Homo sapiens: one gene and its partners. The protein of the gene in region 3 purifies or fractionates together with the protein of the main gene of each other region. This does not show direct contact. Each region holds a gene or a part of one and is shown on either strand. Other genes may lie near its edges.

Region 1 (3,656 bases), on a different chromosome or scaffold from region 3:
TTTCCAATTCTGCCATTAATTTATGTAGGCTGGAATCTCTTTTAGATTTCATTTTCCTCACATGTAATACTAAGTTTGATGTTTCATTGTCTTAAATTATTATATAATGCTGAGGATCTATGTATATATAGGCTTCATTCTCTCATTCAGTTTCTGAGAAATTACTTTGAGGGCATAAACCAAGCATATTTCTTGGTTTCATTTTTGATTTCAATTAGAATAAATCACAAGAAAGAACAATGGAAATTACATGTTAACCACAATATAGTGTATGTGTAAGACAAAATTAAACATACCTAGTGCAGCACAGAATAATCTCATTTTTAAAGCTCTGTGAGTCAATGAATAAATAAAAGAATTACGTTCATGTTTCACTAGTAAGAGTGTTCACCAATGCTGGAAGCTGGGAGCTGAAAATGCTGGAAGCTGGGTTAGACTAGGCTATTAGAAACCAGATAAAAAGGGCCAGTGACTTTTAGAGGGGATTTTGCAGAACCTCCTGGTAGTGGGGCTTTTTATCTGTGCCAATCACCTTTATCTGTGCTAATTCCTATTTTTGAACTTCCCTATTCAATTCCACATCTCAGCCATTCCTTTTGGTTTTTAGATATTTATGTGAAATGCTAGAACTCCCTGACTAATTGGAACCAAGTTTCACATCATCATCATCCTCTATTCCAAGCTTGCTGTCCCCATGATCCTCTTAAAAATCTGAGTTTCCAAAACACATAAACATACTTGTATATCAAAATGGCCTTTCTCTTTCTCTCTATATATGCACACATACACACATAAACACACATGCACACACACCCCCACCTGAGCTGAACCAAAGGCCATCTTCCCAAATATTGGAGTCTGGCTTTATCAAAATATTTGTGGAGTATTACCAGAAGTTCAGATTCATAGGCTCTACAATACAGCTTCTAATCTAAACCTCTAGAGGTTAGGGCCCTGGATTTTATTTATTTATTTATTTATTTTTTTTAAACAATTTTCCCATTCAGATGTGAAGGCAGTTTGAGGGACCTCATGATGGCAATACTATATTCTTCCATAAACTTATAACCTCTATCTTCTCCTTTAAGAAGTAATTTAAAAAATCTTAATACATACTATCATTGGAAGTGCTTCATCTAAGAAAAATGAGAAATTATCTACTTGTAAAAGAACACACAAATGGGTATATTTACATATTTGTAAATATGTAAATATTTACATATTTGTAAATATGTAAATATTTACATATTTGTAAATATGTAAATATTTGCATATTTGTAAATATGTAAATATTTACATATTTAAATTAAATTAATTTACATATTAAATTAAATTACATATTTATATTAAAAATGTAAATTTGTAAATATGGTTTTACATATTTGTAAAAACCTCATCACATTAGGAATGTCATTCAAATGAAAGGTGAAGTCTAAGCTCATGTTTATCACTGTACTGTTTTCTAAGGAACAATAACGAAAAAATACTGAAAATAAGTCCTAGGGGAACTATGGCAGTAAGTTAAACGGGTAGGGTGGGGGTGTTCTTAAGCAGTTCTAAGGTATTTGTGAAGAGACAACTTATATTCTATTGATTCTAAAATTCACTTTTTTCACATTATCTCTGAAATCAGATTACACCATACAAATGATAGCATCTTACAATGAATTGCTGGTATTTTTCTGTCTTAGCAGTAATAAAATGATAGTGTTTCCTACAATCAGAGATTAGTGAAAATACTATCAACATGAATTCTTCTCTTGTCATCAAAGACAATTTCTCTAAAAACCTCAGGAAAAAAGCTGCTAGTCTGGTTTGAATTTCACAATATATAAAAGCAATGAATATATTTTTCTTTTTTAAAAAAATCCACAATTATTAATTCAAGTTACCACTCCTCAACAGAAAACATACAAGAGTCTCATATATGAAGTCACTATTTTCTGGGCTTGATTTCTAAACTAAGGAGTGGATAACTCTAAGGTTTCTTTTAGCTCTTAAAGCCTAGGATCCCATAATTTTATTTATCAATATTAAGCTTACCACAAAGTTTCTCATTTCTTCTTTTCCACCCAACCCTGCTATACAATTCCAAAATTAGCAAGTCATAAAAAAGTGGCCACTAGTTTGTTCACTGTGATATATAAGAATGAGGCTTAAAAAGCAGAGATCCTTGGGAAATAAGATCTTGAAAAATTCATCACTTTTGAGCTTTCATATGAGAGAATAATCTTAAACCACTTTCTATTATAGAACTTCTACTATGTGTTACTAAAATATGTGGCTTTATCATAATCATCACCTGCTGTGAATACTTACTTCAAAAAATTACACAGGTTATCAATTTTACTTATAAGACCTATTTCGATGCTGGTTTTTCTAGTCTTTTCACATTCTGTTATTTTTTTAAAAAAAAGAAAAGGAAGAAAAAGCAAGGGAGAAAGAAAGTTAAGAGTAAAATCTGCTTAGTGTGAGCATTCAGAGCCCCTAAGGAAGCTTCTCTGTAAGCATCATCTCTTTCTATTTTCACAGTTTATTAAACTGCCTAACACACATGATTTCTGAAGTGAACTGCTTTTGTGGGCTGGCAATATTCAAGTACATATACTATCTAGTGAATCCTGATTTATGATAGGCCACACTATATTATCTAATTTTGATATAATTAAGCAGAACTTGCTAAAAACAAGTTACCATAATTAAAGAGCTCACAGTTAATTTTACACTAACACCTAAGGCTTTAAAAGCAGTTGTTTCCTTAAAATTCTAGAATAGAATTTAAAATATAGAATAAAGTATATACCAAGTACTTAAACTTTTGTTTTTAGTCTTGCTTTACTAGAGAAAAAAATGGGGGACTGAGGAAAATAAGACTGAGTAGACTTCTGAGCGAAAGACAGATAAGGAAGGTAGACAATTTTTTGAACCCTGGAATGATTCTTACAGTGTAATTTCATTGCCTTTTAAAGGCTAGACATAGCTTTTGATGAAGACAGCTGAAGGGATCTCACCTCAAGAAGCCAAACATAAAGTATGTAGCTTTGGCATTTGCAGTTCTGCTCCAACAATGGATAGTCATAGACAGACCTCAACATACCTTTCATAAAACATCACTCACATTCTTATAAAATACCCTATCATTCTGCTAAACTATGTAAAGTAAGGTGCTGGCTGCCTTATGATCAGTCATTAAGTGTATTAATTATTCATGTGTCTCAAAACTATGTAAGTGAAATAAAAAGGGTACCAGAAAGCAAGCAATAATAATGACTTCAGGCAGTTAAAGCCCCCTTTTGTCTCTGCTAGAAAACCACCTGAGTTGCTTAAATAATGCAGAATCTTTCTCCAACACTATAAACATATCTGACATTAAAAAAAAAAAACAAACCAGTAACAAAAAAAAAAAAAACACACAAAATCTCTGCAATTTTTAATTTCTGAGATGTCAAATAACTTTTTCCACCGGGCTACAGCTTTATGAATTCTCGAATTTAGACAATTCTAAAACTAAAATTTAGACATTCTAAAACTAAAATACATTTTAAAGTAAAAATCACATTTCCTAGTTGTCTGTGTCAGACAACTTTACTAGTATACTATAGTATTATTAACTACCTTAATTTTTGTTGACATTAAATTTTACTTGAAGATGATAA
Region 2 (3,656 bases), on a different chromosome or scaffold from region 3:
CACAAGTCTTTCTAGCTAAATTTTTAAGAGGACCTTGTGAGTTTTGATAAACAAAAATTCCGTAAGTTGTAATTATGTATGTAACCTAAATGCGCAAACGTGTGTGGGCATATATACATGTATATATAGAGAAAAAAGACAAAAGACAAACACCTGCACTGTACTCTCAGCTCTACAAGACTTGCCTTTAATTATGCAAGGCAAGCAATGGCTTAAGCCTCCCTCCCCATGGCTGATTTTAATATTTAAGTTTGCTACCACTGGGGACTGTTTTAAACTCTAGGTAAGAATCATCTGAATTAACTAGTCCTAACAGCAGAATCCCAGAATAGGATTTCCTCCAAAGCAAGGTCACTATCCACCCACGCTCAACTTCACCAAGAGTCCCTCCTCCAAATGGAAGATATCACCGTGCCCTCTGAGGAATGAACAACAGAACCTTCTCCCACGTCCTGTTACCCATTAAAATTGCTCCCTAAACCTGAGCATAATCAACTCTCCAATACCACCAGGGGCCCCACTGAGAAATGCCCCAGAATTGCTTTCTTTATTCTCTTCTGTGTCTGAGTGCCTTACTTGGGCCTTTATTCCAAAGCAAAAACTTATCCTATATCCTTAATGCTGTTTTACTGACCTGGACTCCTCAGGGAGGGGGCACAGAAGCTTCCCTGCAGCTCTCAACGGAAAGCTGCTCATACCTGGAACCTGGAGGCAGTGTTTTATTTTGGACCTAGCTTTCTGCTACCCCTTTCAAAAACCCCTTTCCCTTGAGCCTCACCTTAGCAGCCCTGTTGTGAACTTCAGTTTTTATTTGAATTATACTAATGGAAAGCCAATGTTGAATTCTTAAGAGTGATATGATCCAGGGTCACTACAGCTGCTGAACTGAGAGCAGTGTGCAGGGAGGTGCAGTGGGAGACGACAGAGACTGCTGCAATTAATCCAGACTTGTAAGACGACAATAACCAAGGTGACTGGTAGTGATATCAGGCATCTAAAATTTTGATATTTTGCAGAAAAGAGTTAACAGACCTGAAACCATTATCCTTAGGAAGGTCTGCGTCCAAGGCTGGCCCTTGGCTGCCATCTGGGAACCTGGATATTGGAAGGGTTCTCACCATTCCTAGAACTGCTAAGAATGGTTCACTGTGCCTAACCTGTTTGTACAACGTGTTTTGTGCCAAACACCTGCTTCCCTTCTGGGAGTATGGAAACTTGGTATAATATATGCCAGCCAGTGGGTGGTCTACATGGCCAGCCTCCCCTAAAAACTCTGGGCACTGGGTCTCTAATGAGCTTTGGTAGACACTTTGCATGTGTTGTCACAAGTCACTGATGGAGGAATTAAGCATGTCCTGTGTTGAATCTTCTGGAGAGGTCTTTTGGAAGCTTGTGACTGATTTCTTTTGGTCTTTATCCAATGAGCCTTTTCTCTTTGCTGACTTTGCTTTGTATCTTCTTGCTGTCATAACTCTTAGCCTGGGAGTGGTCACGGAGACCTCACACACACGTATCTTTTGAAGGGATAAACAAAGGCTTTGCTAACAATTCCCAGGATTTTGGCCTGAGCAGCTATAAGAATGGAGTTGCCATTAATGAGATGGCAAAGAAATATGTGAGGAATGTTTGGAGGGAATGGGGTTTGGTTTTGGATATGCTAAGCTCTTTATCACACTCTCAAGTGGAAAGCTTTCCCATTCTCCACATAGCTCTCTTTTCTAAAATGTCTGCTTAGAATTCCTTTACCCCCATCCTGGCTAACACAGTGAAACTCCGTCTCTACTAAAAATACAAAAATTAGCCGGGCGTGGGGGTGGGGGCGCCTGTAGTCCCAGCTACTCAGGAGGCTGAGGCAGGAGAATGGCGTGAGCCCAGGAGGCAGAGCTTGCAGTGAGCTGAGATTGCGCCACTGCACTCCAGCCTGGGTGACAGAGGGAGACTCCGTCTCTTTAAAAAAAAAAAAAGAAAGAAAAAAAAGAATTCCTTTCTCAGTCTTGGCGATACAACCCCTTCTCAGTGCTACCTCAGTCTTCCCCTCTAGAACTACACAATATCTGTGTCTAATTCTATATCCAGCACAGTGCTTGATAAGCATCATAAGGGCACAAAATATTGTTGCTGAATGAATGGATAAACGAATAACTCTTGGATTTTAAGGGCCAGATAAGTCACAATTCTACACACAATTCTATAACTTCTTTGATTTGAAAGTGGCCCTGGGCCATTCTCATTGAAATGTTGAGAATATCTCGGAGGTCCATTTCTATGTTTACATTTCAGGTGCCTATTTATGGATAAGTGAGCTACTGAAAATCTCAATGCTTTGCAAGTAGGGAGATGTAGTAAAGTCCTTTTTCAGAAACTGGTAGAGTACACCAGTGCACATTAGACCCAACACTATCTTTAGTAGCTCCATCTTTATTTTATATTTAATTTTTTTGTGTGTGGCGGGGGGGACAGGGTCTCACTCTGTGGAGTACAGTGGTGCGATCCTGGCTCACCGCAACCTCCACCTCCACCTCCCAGGATCAAGTGAGCCTCACCTCAGCCTCCCAAGTAGCTGGGACTACAGGCGCATACTACCACGCTCAGCTAATTTTTGTGTTTTTTTGTAGAGACAGGGTTTCACCATGTTGCCCAGACTGATCTCAAAGTCCCGAGCTCACAGGATCCACCCGCCTTGACCTCCCAAACTGCTGGGATTACAGGCATGAGCCACTATGTCCAGCCTAGTAGTTCCATTTTTAGATGTAGTTTAATATCCACAATAGAAGAACAATTCTGCGTACTTGTAATAATCGACTTAAGGAGGATCAATATCCATACAGATACTGTGGCAGAAAAAAAGACTTAATTATTTTAGACTTTTCCCCACAGACGAAATTAAAAGTTTTTGGTTAATAAAAAATACAACCAAGCAGAAAGTTCCATTTCTGATGCATTTACCAAAGTTTCAGTGTATCTACCAGACTACAAACTCTACTCTTGAGTTGCCAACAGAGAAAATTTCATGTCAATGAAATCAACAATACAGTAGTAGCAGTAACAAAATACAATGTACCAAGAATTTCCTTTGTCCCAGACTCTATCCTAAATCTTACGTATACTTAATTCATTTGTTAATAATTCCACTGCAACCTTGAGGTTTGGTGCTATAATTAACCCCCAATTTATAAGTCAGGAAACAGAAGTATCAAGAGGTAAAGTAACTTCCCTAAGATCATAAAGCTAGTTGCTTGGCTATTAAAACAAACCAGTAGGCTCCAGGACCCAGATTATTAATCATTACATGATTGTCAGCATGACAGGTACATTATTTCTCCAAGTTGGTATACTACAGCCAAATCGTCCCCTAAGAACATACATTTCAACAAGCCCTTCCAGGGATTAAAGATCACTGGTATGGTAGAAAAACACTGCATTTCGAGATAAAAGGCGTGAAATTAAGCCTTTAATTAAGGTTTTAACATCCTAACCAGCCACTGGCCACTTTCAAAACCTTAGCTTCCTCCTTTGCCAAATAAAGGGATTTGATAATTTTATTTTAAATTTTTTTTTTTTTTTTTTTTTTTGAGACAGAGTCTCACTAACTCACCCAGGCTGGAATGCAGTGGCAGGACCTTGGCTCACTGCAACTTCTGCCTCCCAGGTTCAAG
Region 3 (3,656 bases):
GCCCTTCAATTTATGCTCTAAAAAACAGAATTTTTGTATGTAAAGTGAGCACAAGGCTGGGGGTGCTGGCTGATTACAGGCAAATCTTTTTTTTTGAGATGGAGTTTCACTCTTGTTGCCTAGGCTGGAGTGCAATGGCGCCATATCAGCTCACTGCAATCTCTGCCTCCCAGGTTCAAGCAATTATCATGTCTCAGCCTCCTGAGTAGCTGGGATTACAGGCATACACCACCACACTAATTTTTGTATTTTTAGTAGAGACAGGGTTTCACCGTGTTGGCCAGGCTGGTCTCGAACTCCTGACCTCAAGTGATCTGCCTGTTTCGGCCTCCCAAAGTGCTGGGATTACAGGCATGAGCTACCATGCCCGGCCACAGTAATAGACAATTAATACAATATCTGAGGGGTAATTCATCACTTTCTTTCCCAAAACCACTCATTTCCTATTTGTGTTAATAGAAAAAGCCCATCATAGTTACCTTTGACTTCTCCCCTTGACTCAGTTAACTTTACTCATCAAGGCACATTGGCTTTTTTTCCCAATGCCTTTTTTCCACTGTCTTTTGCTGCCATCTTGAAGTAAGCTCTCATTATCGCATTACTTTTTTTTTTTTTTTTTGAGACGGAGTCTCGCACTGTCACCCAGGCTGGAGTGCAGTGGCGCAATCTCGGCTCACTGCAACCTCCACCTTCCAGGTTCAAGCGATTCTTCTGCCTCAGCATCCCGAGTAGCTGGGATTATAGGCGCCCGCCACCACGCCCAGCTAACTTTTTGTATTTTTAGTAGAGACGGCGTTTCACCATGTTGGCCAGGCTCGTCTTGAAATCCTGACCTTGTGATTTGCCCGCCTCGGCCTCCCAAAGTGCTGGGATTACAGGCGTGAGCCACTGTGCCCGGCCAGCTCTCATTACTTCTTATCAGTGCATCTGTAACAGGCTTCTTACTGCTCCTCGTCCCCAGTTAGCTTCTCCTCCAGATCCATAGAGTTGTCAGATTCATGTTCTTAAAACCCAGCTCTCTGCTTCCCACCAAACTCTAAGTCACATTCTTCGAGCATTCAAGGGATGCCACTATGTTGCCTCAACCCATCATTCCACACGAATCTCCTGCTGTTTTCTTACAGAAAACCTGCTATGTCCATTAAGAAACATGCAAACTGCATTGTGAGGTGGTTGGCTTGTTATACCTTCACACTTTTTTTGCTCATAGCACCCCTTTAATCACTTACATACAAACCTAATCCTGCTTATCAGAACTACCTTGAACCCTTCTTCAAAATGATAGAGGTGCATAGGAGAGTAAGAAGTAAAGTCAATGCCTGTAATCTCAGCACTTTGGGAGGCCGAGGTGGGTGGATCACATGAGGTCAAGAGTTTGAGGCCAGCCTGGCCAAGATGGTGAAACACCATCTTCACTAAAAATACAAAAGTTAGCCAGGCGTGGTGGTGCATGCCTGTAGTCCCAGCTACTCGAGAGGCTAAGACATGAGAATCACTGAATCTGGGAGGCGGAGGCTGCATTAAGCTGAGATCGTGCCACTGCACTCCAGCCCAGGTGACAGAGTGAGACTCTGTCTCAAAAAAAAAAAAAAAAGAAAAAGAAAAAGAAAAAAAAAAGGAAATTCAGATTTTTAGCTCCTTGAAAGCAAGTACCATTTCTTACTCACCTTGCACTGAAACTCAATCAATATTTGTCATAAGGAAGTGAGGAAATGTGTTCAAAATGTAATATTTCACCAAGTCAAGGACATTAAAGATGGGGGGTGCTGCAGTAGGCATGGTAGTATGCTGAGAAAAGGGACTTCAAGGAGTTCTGGGACATACACCCTGCCTTCAGGGAGCTAATGTACCAGGAAGAGGCAGGACAGACCAGGTAAAATGATAAGGAACTAACACCAAAGTGGTACCACTTCCAACCAACATTGTAAATCAAAAATTTGGACCAAGGAGAGGAGAGAGAATGGTAGCTGGAGAAGGATATAGGATCAAGGAAGGTTTGGTGTTTGGGTTTTATTTTAATACTATATGTAATTAATAATGAGTATGGAATTTTATATTTCATTTTTTTTTTACATGGAGTTTCGCTGTGTCACCCAGGCTGGAGTGCAGTGGTACAATCTTGGCTCACTGCAACCTCCGCCTCTTGACTTCAAGTGCTTCTCCTGCCTCAGCCTCCCTAGTAGCTGGGATTACAGGTGCCTACCACCATGCCCAGCTAATTTTTTGTACTTTTAGTAGAGATGGGGTTTCACCATGTTGACCAGCCTGGTCTTGAACTTCCGACCTCAAATGATCCACCCGCCTTGGCCTCCCAAAGTGCTGGGATTACAAGCGAGAGCCACCAGCCAGAATTTTGTATTTTAATTACTTAGATTCCTGATCAACATAAACAATTCCTTATTCTTAACAGAAAATATGCAGGATAAAACATATAGTGATAACTATTGCCAAAACTAGCAGTTTCTAAAGTGGTTTTTTGTTTTGAAATGAAATCTCACTCTGTCACCCAGGCTGGAGAGTGCAGTGGTGTGATCTCGGCTCATTGCAACCTCCACCTCCAGGGTTTGAGGCGATTCCCCTGCCTCAGCCTCACAATTAGCTGGGATTATAAGCATGCACAATTAGGCCAGGCTAATTTTTGTATTTTTAGTAGAGATGGGGTTTCACCATGTTGGCCAGGCTGGTCTTGAACTCCTGACCTCAAGTGATCTGCCCGCCTTAGCCTCCCAAAGTGCTGGGATTACAGGTGTGAGTCACCGTGCCTGGCCTGAAGTTGTTTTTTTTTTTTTCTTTTTTAATTGTGTTAAAATACATGTAACATAAAACTTACCATCTTAGCCATTTCTAAGTATAAAGTTCAGTAGTGTTAAGGATATTCACATTATTGTGCAACCAATCTCTAGAACTCATTTCATCTTGCAAAACTAAAACTCTCTGTTAAACAAATTCCCCACTCCTCCCTTCCCCCAGCCCCTGGCAACCACCAGCCTACATTCTGTCTCTATGGATGTGATGACTCTGGGTACCCAGCAGTGGTGAAACCAACTATCAGACCCCACCAACAAATGACAAATGCCAGGATACACCTAGCCAATCAATCAGGTGCATGGCAACTTTGCTTAGAAAATACAGATCTCACATCTCAACATATCACCAATCAACTTCTGTAGAATTTCCACATATCCCCAGAAGGATGATAATTAAAGTTAGAGAACTGACTTCTGGAGAGTCATTAAAAGGCTAGGTGCTTTTTGTTTGGATATATTTCAGATATATCAGATTCACATGATTCACAGATTAACTCTTTGTCAGTGGCATCTTGAATAGTTAGGTACTTGGTAGCCAATGCAAAGAGTTTTTCTTCCTAAGCAGAGCCATAATAAGGGGAAGAAATGATGAACTTACACCATTGTAATAGTTCTCTGAGACAGGAGAACAGGTAGCAAAAAAAGACCTCCTTTCTACCAGAGGTCTGTAAAAATAAGTCAACAAACCCATTCTGGTTGAGAAGCCCTCCTCTAAAACAGAGATATAAACTGGTCAAAGGAAAGACTCCCCAAAAGATTTAATTTCTTTAACATTGTAGGGCAGAGTTTTCCCAACACATCGATTGAATGTTCAAACATGGCCTCAGTACAATGTTCTGGTACAACAGG

What was found.
Region 1: the proteins of ESR2 (region 3) and UBE3A purify together in Homo sapiens (affinity purification with western blotting; 4 studies listed by BioGRID). This does not show direct contact.
Region 2: the proteins of ESR2 (region 3) and PTCD3 purify together in Homo sapiens (affinity purification with mass spectrometry; 3 studies listed by BioGRID and IntAct, with this or other methods). This does not show direct contact.

Annotation. Positions count from the first base shown.
Region 1 is NC_000015.10:25,365,980-25,369,635, forward strand, and holds part of UBE3A (ubiquitin-protein ligase E3A), read right to left. Parts: intron 1-3,656. UniProt on the Homo sapiens protein: E3 ubiquitin-protein ligase which accepts ubiquitin from an E2 ubiquitin-conjugating enzyme in the form of a thioester and transfers it to its substrates.
Region 2 is NC_000002.12:86,112,598-86,116,253, reverse strand, and holds part of PTCD3 (small ribosomal subunit protein mS39 precursor), read right to left. Parts: intron 1-3,656. UniProt on the Homo sapiens protein: Mitochondrial RNA-binding protein that has a role in mitochondrial translation.
Region 3 is NC_000014.9:64,284,249-64,287,904, forward strand, and holds part of ESR2 (estrogen receptor beta), read right to left. Parts: intron 1-3,656.